Linked DNA regions of Homo sapiens: region 2 is linked to region 1. The links come from fine-mapping of genetic effects on gene expression. Tissue or cell type: whole blood. Region 1 holds a variant in brackets; the other region holds the start of a gene. All regions are shown on one strand. Distances are between the middles of the regions.

Region 1 (6,428 bases):
CGTGAGCCCACCTGGAGCCAGGGCACAAAGGGGTGGGGGGACCACAGCAAAACTCTTCTGGCAAACAACAGAGGCCACAAATCCAGGGTTCAGTTAACATTACTGGACCAAGCACCCAGTTTGTTTTTCTAAGTGGTTGGGGAATTCTGAAGAGGATCAGTTTAAAAACAGTATAGACCCTGCTGCATTTTCTCCACTCAACTCTACTGTCCCGTCTCGCGATCATGCTACACTTGCAGCCCCGTCCACTCTAGATCGCTGCCCGGCCTCCCCACGCTGTCAGATGCTGTCTCTGTGAGAAGCCCCCTCCTCACTGCTTTCCCACACAATGGAGCCATGCCCCGTGTGAGATGAGCCACGCGGGCACAGGAGTGAGGCTGGCAAAGCGCACACCAGCCTCCCCCCAGGTCTGCCCCTGCCCGGGCATCTGGTGCCCCCAGCACGTGAGGCGCCCCGGCTGCTGTGCTGGAAAGCATGCCTGTCACTTGGGCCCAATTTCCTCACCTGTCTTGTGGGCTGGGCTTGCTATGAGGCTTGGGACACGGGAGAGCACGGCTGTCGAAAAGATATGCCCTCTGCCTCCCATGTCAGCCACGCGCTGGCTGTGCCTCATGGGGCAAGTTGTGTCGCCTCTCTGAGCCTGTCCCTCGCCTGTAAAATGCAGATAACCCACCATGTAAGGCTGTGAGGGGAATTAGAGGAGTTCGTACATTCAAGGTACTTAGACCAACACCTGGCACAAATTATAAAGTGTCAGCCGTCAGCATCCCGATCACCGTAATAGCTCGTACCCTTCGCACTGATTGGTTTAGTCATGAGTGCGTGAGGCAGTTCTAGCCAAGACATTAGAGGAGGTCGGCTGAAGCCAGAGCTTCGGAAAGGGCTCCCTTTATCTTAAAAAGAGACACACATAGGATCGCTTAACGCCAGGAGTTCAAAACCAGCCTAGGAAGCAAGCGAGACCCAGTCTCTACAAAAAATTTTACAAACTAGCTGGGTATGTTGTCATGCACCTGTACTCTCCGCTACAAGGGAGGCTGAGGTGGGAGGATCACTTGAGTCCAGGATTTGGAGGCTGCAGTGATCTACGATTATGCCACAGTACTCCAGACCAGAAGACAGAGCAAGACCTCATCTTCAACAACAACAACAAAAAGAGCAGGTGACACATAAAAGAGGCAGCCATTTGTCCCCAAACACCTTACACTGGTGTGATGCCTGGAGCTGTGGTGGCCATCTTGCAACCATGAGGCCTGAAGTCCTGAATGGCCAGAGAGGAGAATATACACCAGAAAAAAAAAAACGGGGGGGTTTGTTACCATGGAAGGAGTGAGGAAGAGCTGCTAGGGAGGCAGCCAACACTCCCGGAGCACATGCAGCCCTTCTGTACCCGACCAGCCTGATGGTGTCTTCCATGAATGCAGTCCCCATCCCTCACTCCAGGAAACTGGGGAAGACAATTCAAGTGGCCTTGATCGTAGACAGTTCCCTTGGAAATAAAAGTACCAAGACAAAGCAGAGAAGTCGGAGAGCTTCAGGTTTGCAGTTTTATAGAAAAGATTTAAGAGGGTTAAAATATTCGTTAAAATGGCCCTCATTCTCCCGGGCCAAGGCTGTGTGGTCACACCTGAGAGCCTCAGCACTGCCCAGTACCCTCTCTCTCCTTGCGGAATTTTTAGTCCAACTGATCACAGAACCCACACCCTAAAAAATACAACAGCATTCTAATGGCATTCTAACGGCATTCTGATGGCATGCTAATGGCATTCTGTTTTGCTTTTTAGCCACCAACAACTCAACCTATTTTCAGAGCAGGTGAAAAACAATTCTGAATCCAGTTTGGAAAGATTCCGGCAACCAACACTTTATGTCAAAGCACAAGGAATGATGACAAAGACTCTGGCGATGGAAGATCAAAAACAGGCTTGTTTTATTTATACACAGAACAACTTATGTACAGCACTCAGGTATGGACTATGTACATGACAATACAAGAGGCGTTTGTTTCCACGGTGGTCACTATATAAATTAAGATTATAAATACGAGGGGGTAAGCCCCACCTGAGGGCACAGAACCTTTTCTCCAAGACTCTTCAGGGATCCTTCCTGCCTCTCTCTGCACAGCAGACCATGAGGCCCGTCTGGCAACACCACAAGGGGACCTGGGCCGGGGCAGCAGAGCAGCCCCCAGACAGCGAGGACACCCCAGTGCGGGACGCCAGCCCAGCACCAAAGGGCAGGTTCCTAAACACTCATGTTCATTCCTTCCTCACATTCTAACTTGTTAGAATTAGAAAAATGGTTTTTATGTAAACAGTGTTGTTCTAATCACTGACAACATATTAATTTTAAACACTTTTGATCCAAACCCAACTCCTTGCCAGGAGTAGGACACTGAGGACTTGGGGTGGCCCTGATGTCCTTGAAGCCACAGTCAGCTGTTTATCCTCCTCATGTCCCCTCCCCACCCAAGTTCCAGCTTGCCTGGGGCTTGTTCTGGGACCCTAAGAACCCCAGGATGCCCACA[T/C]CGCCAGGCCAGCAGGGCCAATGGTCATGCAGGGACTGCGGGACAGGTTCCCATCATCTCCTGTGTTAGCCCATTCCACCTGGGAAACCAAGCGACTGCCGTGGCTGGCTTATTTCTCCCTCTGCCAACCCCCATCTACAATGTTCTGGGGAAAACAATGAGAGGTGGAAAAGGTAACATACAACCACCTTCCACCCACATCACTTCCAGTGAGGCAGCTAAGTCCACCAACAGAGCGTGGGAGAGTCTTTCATCCAAAAATCCCAACACGTCGCATGCAGCGACAGGAGGCTGTGCTGGGGAAACCCAAGGCCTGGCTCAGCCTCCATACTCTAAGGGCCTCGGGCCAGAACGACCACGAGAGGGGAGCACCCAAAGGCACGCAGAGGGGCCCACCTGGGTGCACTGCAGAGGGGACAGAGGGGCTGTGAGTGGGAGGTGGGCCAGTGCTGTTCACTGCCGCCTGCTCAGGACCAGGGGCTGCTGCAGACCCAGCCCGGTCTATGCCCACCCCCGCAGGTGCAGCCCAGCTTCTGCACATCAGATGGAGTGACGCTGACTAAAGGACCTGGACAGCGCCGGCAGATACTCCCAACACTGTCCTTCTCTTTGGGAGCCAAAGAGAAGCCACGGCAGATACTCCCAACACTGTCCTTCTCTTTGGGAGCCAAAGAGAAGCCACGGCCAGGCAGCCAGGCCAGAGCCATTTCCTCCTCACACCAGGGCAGGGGTTACAGAAACCTCTTCCCAAGACATTTACAAGCACCTCTGAGCCATGACTATCAACGGGAAAAAAGGGCAAAGTCAGTGCCCTGGAGGACCAGGGGCATCCTTCACCTGGGCACTGTCCCTACGGGGCACAGCCCTCTCCCCAGGCGAGCTCCCTGCCCTCTGGCACCATCATCTACTAGTTCAGAGCCAGGACAGAGGCAGGGCAGGGGCAGCGCGGACCACCAAATCAGAGTCCCTGCCAGCACCTCCAGCGACATCACGCCCAGCAGCAGGCGACAAGAAGCCACTGCAGGGGCAGACACTCAGGAGAGCCTCCGGCCTCCAGGCCACCGGACGGGCTGAAGAGGTCAAACCACCCCTGGCCCACCAGGGCCACGCTCCCTGGGAACCACAGAATGGGCAGAAAAAGTTTCCCAGAGCCAGGAAGCATTTCCCACACAGAAACACTCATGTGGACACACATCCTCTGTCTGCAGGGATGCAGCTGGCAAGCTGTCTCACTCACACCCCAAGCTGAACTCGCCTAGAGCGTCCGGAGACAGAAGGGCAGGCGTCCCCAGCCCACAGTGGGGGGAGGGAGGAGCGGGAGGAGAGAGGATGGAGGAGGGAGGAGCACAGGCCCTGTGACACCCAGGGAGGGGCTCCCCGCCTGGGAAACAGCACCCGCTGCCTTGGCTCACGCAGGAGGAATTTTTTTTTCTCTTCACGTCAAATTACAATCAACAAGACTGGAAACATCCATGCTACTTTCAAACCAGGAAAGAGCACGATTTTTGTTCAACAAAAGCTGCATCAACAAACAGGGGCCCTTGCAGGCTGCTGTGCTGGGCCCCAGCCACGTTTCTGAGAACTGGCTGGGGGCCAGGAGGCGGAGCCACACGGTGCGGCCACAGAAGGACACACGGAGAGGAGCCCCCGGGACAATCCAAGCACGAGGCCAGGCAAGCAGTGCCCAGGAGGCCAGACGCCGCTGGATTCCCTGGCCCACAGCACAGGCGGGCGAGAGCTGAGTGGCCGTGACACATGTGCCCCAGGTGACTCTGAGCTGGAGAAAGTGTTGTTTCAAAGGTAGCTGTGTTGTTATGTTCGAGACCCCAGAGCTCTGGTGGACGGTGTCACGGAGGCTTTCTGTAGCTGACAGAGGAAGTAGCACCATGAGAAGGGGGCGGGCTGCAGCATCTGCCCAGGGCCTCAGTGGCAGGAGGCGCAGAGGCCACAGGCTGAGAGGGCGGAGGCTAGGCCTCGGCGGCGGGGATGTGGAGGCCACAGGCTGAGAGGACAGAGGCTAGGCCTCGACGGCGGGGGCGCTGCGGCTCAGCTCCTTGATGCCACACAGGATCCTCTTCATGTGGCCCACCTTGGTCACGCCCAGGTCCTGCAACAGAGAAGACACCGCCATGGATGCCGAGAAGACAGCCAGGGCCAGAGGGCTCCACAGCAGGCCTGCCACAACGGCCCTTCCCATTCGGCTTGTGAACACAAATGAGAGCCAAAATGACAAAAACGGTAAAACAAGATGGAAACAGCTTAAAAGTAACAACCATACAGATGCCTGGCCCATTGTTCCTGCATTCTAGTCACTACCATCAGCAAGGACAAATCCAAGACAAAGACAAAACACAGGCCTAAAAGCAAGTGGATGACAAGTGACCTCATGAGAGCCACTGTCCAGGACACCCACAGTGGCCTTTTGCCCTCTCGGGACTCAGCCAGTGATTCAACACCCAGGGGTTGGCCCGTTGAGGCCAACCTGGGCAGGGGCATGGGCCTGCAAGATGTGGCGTGAGGCCTGGCATAGACCGAGGCCTGGCACCCAACCACCCCTCCCAATGCTCCCTGCAGACGAGTGGCAGCACCCGCCCAGGAGCAGCATGGGGACAGTCGTGTGTGACTGTGCTTCAGGGTCTGTGTCCCCTCATAGTGTTTTTAACACGAAGACAGTCCTTGTCTGAGTAGCCTAAGATAACCAAGGCTCTGCCCCCCATTATGTCTGCTCCTGGCTTCCTCTGGTTGTGGTGGGTGGAGCCATCACTGCCTAGATGAGGGCCACAGCCGCCCCCACCTGAGGTATACACGAAAGCCTGAGAAGAATCGTGATGCTGGGACATGGCCAGGTCGGGGGAGAGGATGGAAGAGAAGGGAGCTGCGTGCAAGCCCAAGTGCAGGTTCCAGGGAGACGCCTATGGAAGTACCTTGAGGTCCCTCCGCTCCAGGTGCAGGAGCTCAGAGCCCCGGATGTCGTGCCGTGTGAAGATGTCCTTATACTCACAGAGACTGAGGTGCTCCAGCCAGGCAGCAACCTCCTCTGTCCCCCAGAGGTGAACTGTCGGAGATGGAAAAGCACGAGTGCAGTGAGTGCCCAGAGCCCAGTGCAAGGTAGGCAGCAGCTGGCACCCAGCACCCGAGAGCCCAGTGCCAGGACAGGAGACGTCCCAACAGCCAGCACCCGAGACAGCCCAGCAGCAGCCAGCGCCTGAGATAGCCCAGCAGCCGGCACCCGAGATAGCCCAGCAGCCAGTGCCTGAGATAGCCCAGCAGCTGGCACCTGAGCCATCTCTGGCAGCCGGTATCCATCACCCAGCCAACAGCACCACCCACCAGCAGTGCAGAAAGAGGCACAGAGCCACCCGCTCAAGGGGCGATGGCTGCAGCAGAGCTGGCATCTGTTCCTGCCAGGTGGGCCGCCAGCCTCTGGTCATTTCCCCGTGTCCCAGGAGGGATTTACCACCACCAAATATGAGGGAAATGTCCTCATGATTGTGGCCAAAGCCAGCTTTTCCTCCAGCTTCTAGAAGGGTTAAATTTCACTTCTGGACCATAGCAGGAAAGGAAACGAGCAGAGATTTCAATTCACATAGTCAGAGCCACCATTATTAACAGAAACCCCATTTCTGGACAAACATGCAAAGAAGAAAAACCCACAGGAGCTGCCCTGACTGGCGGCAAACACCAGTCCCAATATCCAGGCTTGGAGGCCTCTCCAGCCCCTGACAGCACTGGATATGGCCTGGGTATTCAGGGCTGATCCTTCAGACAGAGAGTTTAGCTCCAATTTACTGACCCAAAGGAACAATGTCCTTCAGGACCATATTCGATTGATTTCATCACCCACAATCTCTGGTGGCCTGGGCTTCCCAGCACAGGAACCTCGACCAATGCATCAATTTAT
Region 2 (5,714 bases), 96 kb before region 1:
ACACCCCTTTCCATAGAAAACCGTACGTAATGAGCCTTAAAGTTCCTTATGACCCCTTGATCTAAGGGCTGAATTAGACATGTTGTGTTTAGGGGCAAGGAGGCCACTTTGGTGCTCTCATTGCAGAATCTATGGGGTTCTGGGTGGCCAGGGACATTGTCCAATATCAAAAGCAATTTAAAAGGAAGTCCCTTACTGGCAAGGTACTTCCTGACTTCAGGGACAGAGCATTGGTTTTCATGGAACCAAACCAGAAAAAGTGTTTTCGTTGTACAGGGCTTTTTATCATAAAACAAAAAGACTTGCAGCTGGTGTTTATCTTTTCCCTTAAAGGCTCAGGGATTAGCAGCTTTATAGATGGCACATTTGAAAGCACTTTGGTAAATAGGTGTGTAGTGAGAAATACAGTATGAAAAGAATGTTGGGACCATCAGCGAACTAAGAATCAAAATAAAGAATTTCCACAGTGGATGTTGAGAAATCGTGGAAGCTTCTTTAGCAGAGAGGTTTGAGCTCAAAGTGCACCTTAGATGGATAGTGCATCTTATAGTGACGTGCAGGAAGGGGTGTGTAAAACGGGAGTCCACTGAAAAGGCTATCATCCTAATGCAGGTGAGATTTCATGGGGATCTGATAGGAGGAGAGGAAGCTATGGAATGAAAGGATTGTCCAGACAATACTTTGACATGCCATTAGTTTGATTCACAGACGAAAGACAAAGATATAAGATTATATAAATATAATCTTATATCTTTATAAATGTGACCACTCATTCATTCATATTTATAAGATTATATAACTATAATCTTATATAAGGTTATATAACTATAATCTTATATAAGGTTATATAACTATAATCTTATATAAGGTTATATAACTATAATCTTATATAAGGTTATATAACTATAATCTTATATAAGGTTATATAACTATAATCTTATATAAGGTTATATAACTATAATCTTATATAAGGTTATATAACTATAATCTTATATAAGGTTATATAACTATAATCTTATATAAGGTTATATAACTATAATCTTATATAAGGTTATATAACTATAATCTTATATAAGGTTATATAACTATAATCTTATATAAGGTTATATAACTATAATCTTATATAAGGTTATATAACTATAATCTTATATAAGGTTATATAACTATAATCTTATATAAGGTTATATAACTATAATCTTATATAAGGTTATATAACTATAATCTTATATAAGGTTATATAACTATAATCTTATATAAGGTTATATAACTATAATCTTATATAAGGTTATATAACTATAATCTTATATAAGGTTATATAACTATAATCTTATATAAGGTTATATAACTATAATCTTATATAAGGTTATATAACTATAATCTTATATAAGGTTATATAACTATAATCTTATATAAGGTTATATAACTATAATCTTATATAAGGTTATATAACTATAATCTTATATAAGGTTATATAACTATAATCTTATATAAGGTTATATAACTAATCTTATATAAGGTTATATAACTATAATCTTATATAAGGTTATATAACTATAATCTTATATAAGGTTATATAACTATAATCTTATATAAGGTTATATAGCTATAATCTTATATAAGGTTATATAGCTATAATCTTATATAAGGTTATATAGCTATAATCTTATATAAGGTTATATAGCTATAATCTTATATAAGGTTATATAGCTATAATCTTATATAAGGTTATATAGCTATAATCTTATATAAGGTTATATAGCTATAATCTTATATAAGGTTATATAGCTATAATCTTATATAAGGTTATATAGCTATAATCTTATATAAGGTTATATAGCTATAATCTTATATAAGGTTATATAGCTATAATCTTATATAAGGTTATATAGCTATAATCTTATATAAGGTTATATAGCTATAATCTTATATAAGGTTATATAGCTATAATCTTATATAAGGTTATATAGCTATAATATAGCTATACTCTTATATAAGATCATATAGCTATACTCTTATATAAGATCATATAGCTATACTCTTATATAAGATCATATAGCTATAATCTTATATAAGATCATATAGCTATAATCTTATATAAGATCATATAGCTATAATCTTATATAAGATCATATAGCTATAATCTTATATAAGATCATATAGCTATAATCTTATATAAGATCATATAGCTATAATCTTATATAAGGATCATATAGCTATAATCTTATATAAGATCATATAGCTATAATCTTATATAAGATCATATAGCTATAATCTTATATAAGATCATATAGCTATAATCTTATAAATGTGAACGAATGAGTGGTCCGCTGGCCGAGTGGACCCGCGAACTCACCAGCGGACTTGTAAGCGAGCTCACCTTGCCCGCTCCCGCTCCCGCTCCAGTTCCCAAACTCTTGGAGCAGAAGAGTTACATTTCCCATAAGGCCCCGTGCGAGGGGCCGGCGCTCCAGCGGGGCATCCTGGGAAGCATAGTCCACGATCCATAAATCACTTTCTGGAGACCCGCCCTCGCCAACATGGCGGCGCCCAGTTGGGGCGGGTTCGTTCGCTTCGCGTTTTGGCCAGGGCGGGGGTCTGGGCTTTAGGCAGTAAGTGCGGCTGGCGCCCGGGGATCCTGGGAGGGACGTGGGAAGCGTAGGGACAGTGTTGGTGGCCCAGTCTGAGGAGGGCGAGGCGAGAGGCTGCCCAGGCCTGCCTGAGGACGCGGCGCTCTCCTGGAGTCGGGGCAGTGGTTTCGGGCCACGGGGACCTCTGCCTTTTTGCGCCCCTGGGCCTGTGGTGGCTTGGAGGGCCTCGGCCGGCCGTAGGAGTTGGGAATTCAGGAATGCAGACAACGAGCTCGAGGCTAGACTCTCGAGTTGTGTTTTTTTAGTTTTCTTCTGAGGAAAAGAAAAATAATTGCATTTCAGCGCTTCCTGTCATTTGGTACCTATGCTAGGCGCTTTACGTTTCTCATCTCCAAGTGACCCTCCGCCACACTCGATGTGAAACCTTGGGGAAGTCACCTAGGCCCCCAGGGCTAACGATGGGATTAGTGGATACATACTGGAAGGCCTTTAGGCTTGATAATTTTAGTGGCAGTCTTCCCCGCCCTCCGCTCCCCTTCCCCCCTCCCTCCCCAGTGAACTGACTTCCGGCCCAACAGCTTCGGGACTGTACTAAAGTGCTCTAAAAAAAGTTAACTTGATCTGTTTAATTTAAATGTCATAATCTGGTATATAGTACTGAAGGGTGTGACAAGCAGAGATTTTAGAGAGTTGATTCTCAGAATTTAGGGTTGGCTTTGCCGTCCCAGCAGTGGATTAGTTGTGGCAACAGGTTTTCTTTTTTAAAAAAATTAGTGATGTGAACGTGCCTTTTTAAAAACAGCTGTTACTTATTGTGGGCCAAACCCTGTACACTAACTGCCCTTCTTTCGTTATGTCATTGGATAGTTTAAATGACCCGAAGAGACAGATGGTATCCTATTTTACACATAAGAAAACAGATTAACATATCCAGGGTCACACAGGTAGTTAGGGTCCTGATAGGGATGAAAAAAATCTAGATCTTGCTGCCTCCAAAACCCAACTACTGTACATAGAAACAGTAGTCCTGTGTTCTAAGAAACAACAGAATCGACTCCCAAGTGTAAGGTAGGGGGATTTGGGGAAAATTTATTTTAAAAATAAAAGCATTTATATGTCACTTTTTTTAAGGGTAGTATTTAGTTTCACAATGTTTGGGGACCTGTTTGAAGAGGAGTATTCCACTGTGTCTAATAATCAGTATGGAAAAGGGAAGAAATTAAAGACTAAAGCTTTGGAGCCACCTGCTCCTAGAGAATTCACCAATTTAAGCGGAATCAGAAATCAGGGTGGAACCTGTTACCTCAATTCCCTTCTTCAGACTCTTCATTTCACACCTGAATTCAGAGGTATGCTATGTTACGTACATTTAACTAGCAATATGTACCATCTTCTTTACATGTAATTAATTATGCAAAATCACAAATAGACCAATTATCTTAAAGATATATTCTACAGTATGTGTTTATTGTTGCACATATAAGATATAAATTGGTAATTCCCTCTGCAGAGAAATGTGAAGCTTAATCTTAAATATATCCTGGGTGATGACAATAATGTTTAGTAAAAAAATAAAGCAATATATTTCTTTTTTAATTCCTGTAATTTAAAGTACAACGTAAAGACAATTGTCATAAGTATCAGTCTTCATTATTGTTACACTGTTTGAGTTTTAAGATTTCTCTAGAATAACAAACACTTAAGCCAGAGTTATCCAACCAATTATATCTACCTTTTGGAGTGGGGAAGGGTGTCATATTATTTATATGGGTGCACAGTTGTTCATACGCATTTCTGAAATCTGGAAAGCTCACACCCTCATCTGATCTCACCTGAGCTTGTTTGGCTTCAGAACCAGACCTGGTGTGAGGCTATTTACAGTTTTTAGTTATCTCATGTGGGTGAATGTTCATACATTCATTACAGGAATATTAATCTGCTTGATTAATGGAAGCTGGCCCAGACCCTGCTGGGAATGTAACATTTTATATATATATAAAAAACACTTTTTTCATATTATCTTTATAAACTCTGGAAATTCTGAATTCCAAAGACCCAGAGATTTTAGGTAAGGGATTGTGTGCAAGAAACAGACCCACCACCCAAATTAGCTAAATTTAAAAGGGGGGTTATTGTAAGAATATAGGGGATCTCAGAAATCAACTGCAGGAAGCCAGCCTGACCTTACTGGACCCTTGATTTCTTGCCCCTGTTTCTCTCTATATATTTCTCCCATACCCCATCTCTGCAAACCAGCTTCCTCCACAAGGGTCCTAGGAGCTGTGTTCCCGTGAGCTCAGTGTGAACATTACTTTGCCTTCACCTGGCCCTGACTGGGGTCCCCAGCACTACATGGCTTTGTAGCTCAGCTCTCCACAGTGTCTCCATATTAGGAGGACAGACAGCCTGACTCATCCTATCTGGTTTGCCATGTTCCTCTTCCCTACTGCCACCACATTTATCAAATCTTTGTGGTTCTTCTGTTGCTTCTAAGCTTAGAAAGACTTGCTGCCTCCAGAGATTTAGTAAATATTTACCGCTGTTACCTTCCTAGGAGCAATTTAATGGGTTGGATTGCATGTGGGATTTAAGTGGTACCTCTTAGCCTTGACTCGATCCCCTCCATAAAAATATCTCCCTGATGCAATCAGTAATTCCACCAGTAAAAATTGCCAGCACTAATAAGTACATTTCTAATAGGGATAACACTTTTCCAGGTTTTAATATAGTTGAAGTTAAAGGACAACTCGAAGTAGAAACGTAGCCTCAAAGGGACTGAGGAAGATGGTGAAGTGTAGGGCGGGTCATGGAGCGTACCATTAGGCAAGAGTAGTACTGAGAGTCCCAGGCCAACTTCCTCTCCAGCAGAGGGGATTGCTGGCCAAGCATATGATTTGACATCTTAGTGCACAATGTGCACTGCTTGTATAGCTTAGCCTGAATCCTGATGGTGACTGACAGGGAGGTATAATTTGGAAAGAATAAGGACTGTCAGAGAACTGGCGGGGGAAATTTTGGAATAGTATTTTAAATAATAGGGCTACATTGGGTTCCATTGTACTCCATTACAATGTAGCTGAGAGTACTGGGAGATTATTATAAAAGTTTTTGTATGGTTTTATGCTT

Evidence for each region. PIP is the estimated chance that this variant, and not a neighbour inherited with it, causes the effect.
Region 2: USP40 starts here. The variant in region 1 is fine-mapped to the expression of USP40 in whole blood (TOPMed, PIP 0.96).

The regions. Positions count from the first base shown.
Region 1 is chr2:233,467,577-233,474,004 of GRCh38, reverse strand. It overlaps DGKD (diacylglycerol kinase delta), which reads right to left. Exons shown (of 30, transcript NM_152879.3): 29 at 5,452-5,582; 30 at 1,907-4,634. The coding sequence ends at 4,545. Among named protein-coding and RNA genes, the nearest start is that of USP40, 96 kb to the left of the region's middle. RefSeq lists an enhancer at 1-148 and a silencer at 5,871-6,086. The variant T/C (reference allele first, on the strand shown) is at 2,528.
Region 2 is chr2:233,563,579-233,569,292 of GRCh38, reverse strand. It overlaps USP40 (ubiquitin specific peptidase 40), which reads left to right and starts at 2,511. Exons shown (of 32, transcript NM_001365479.2): 1 at 2,511-2,609; 2 at 3,720-3,937. The coding sequence starts at 3,739.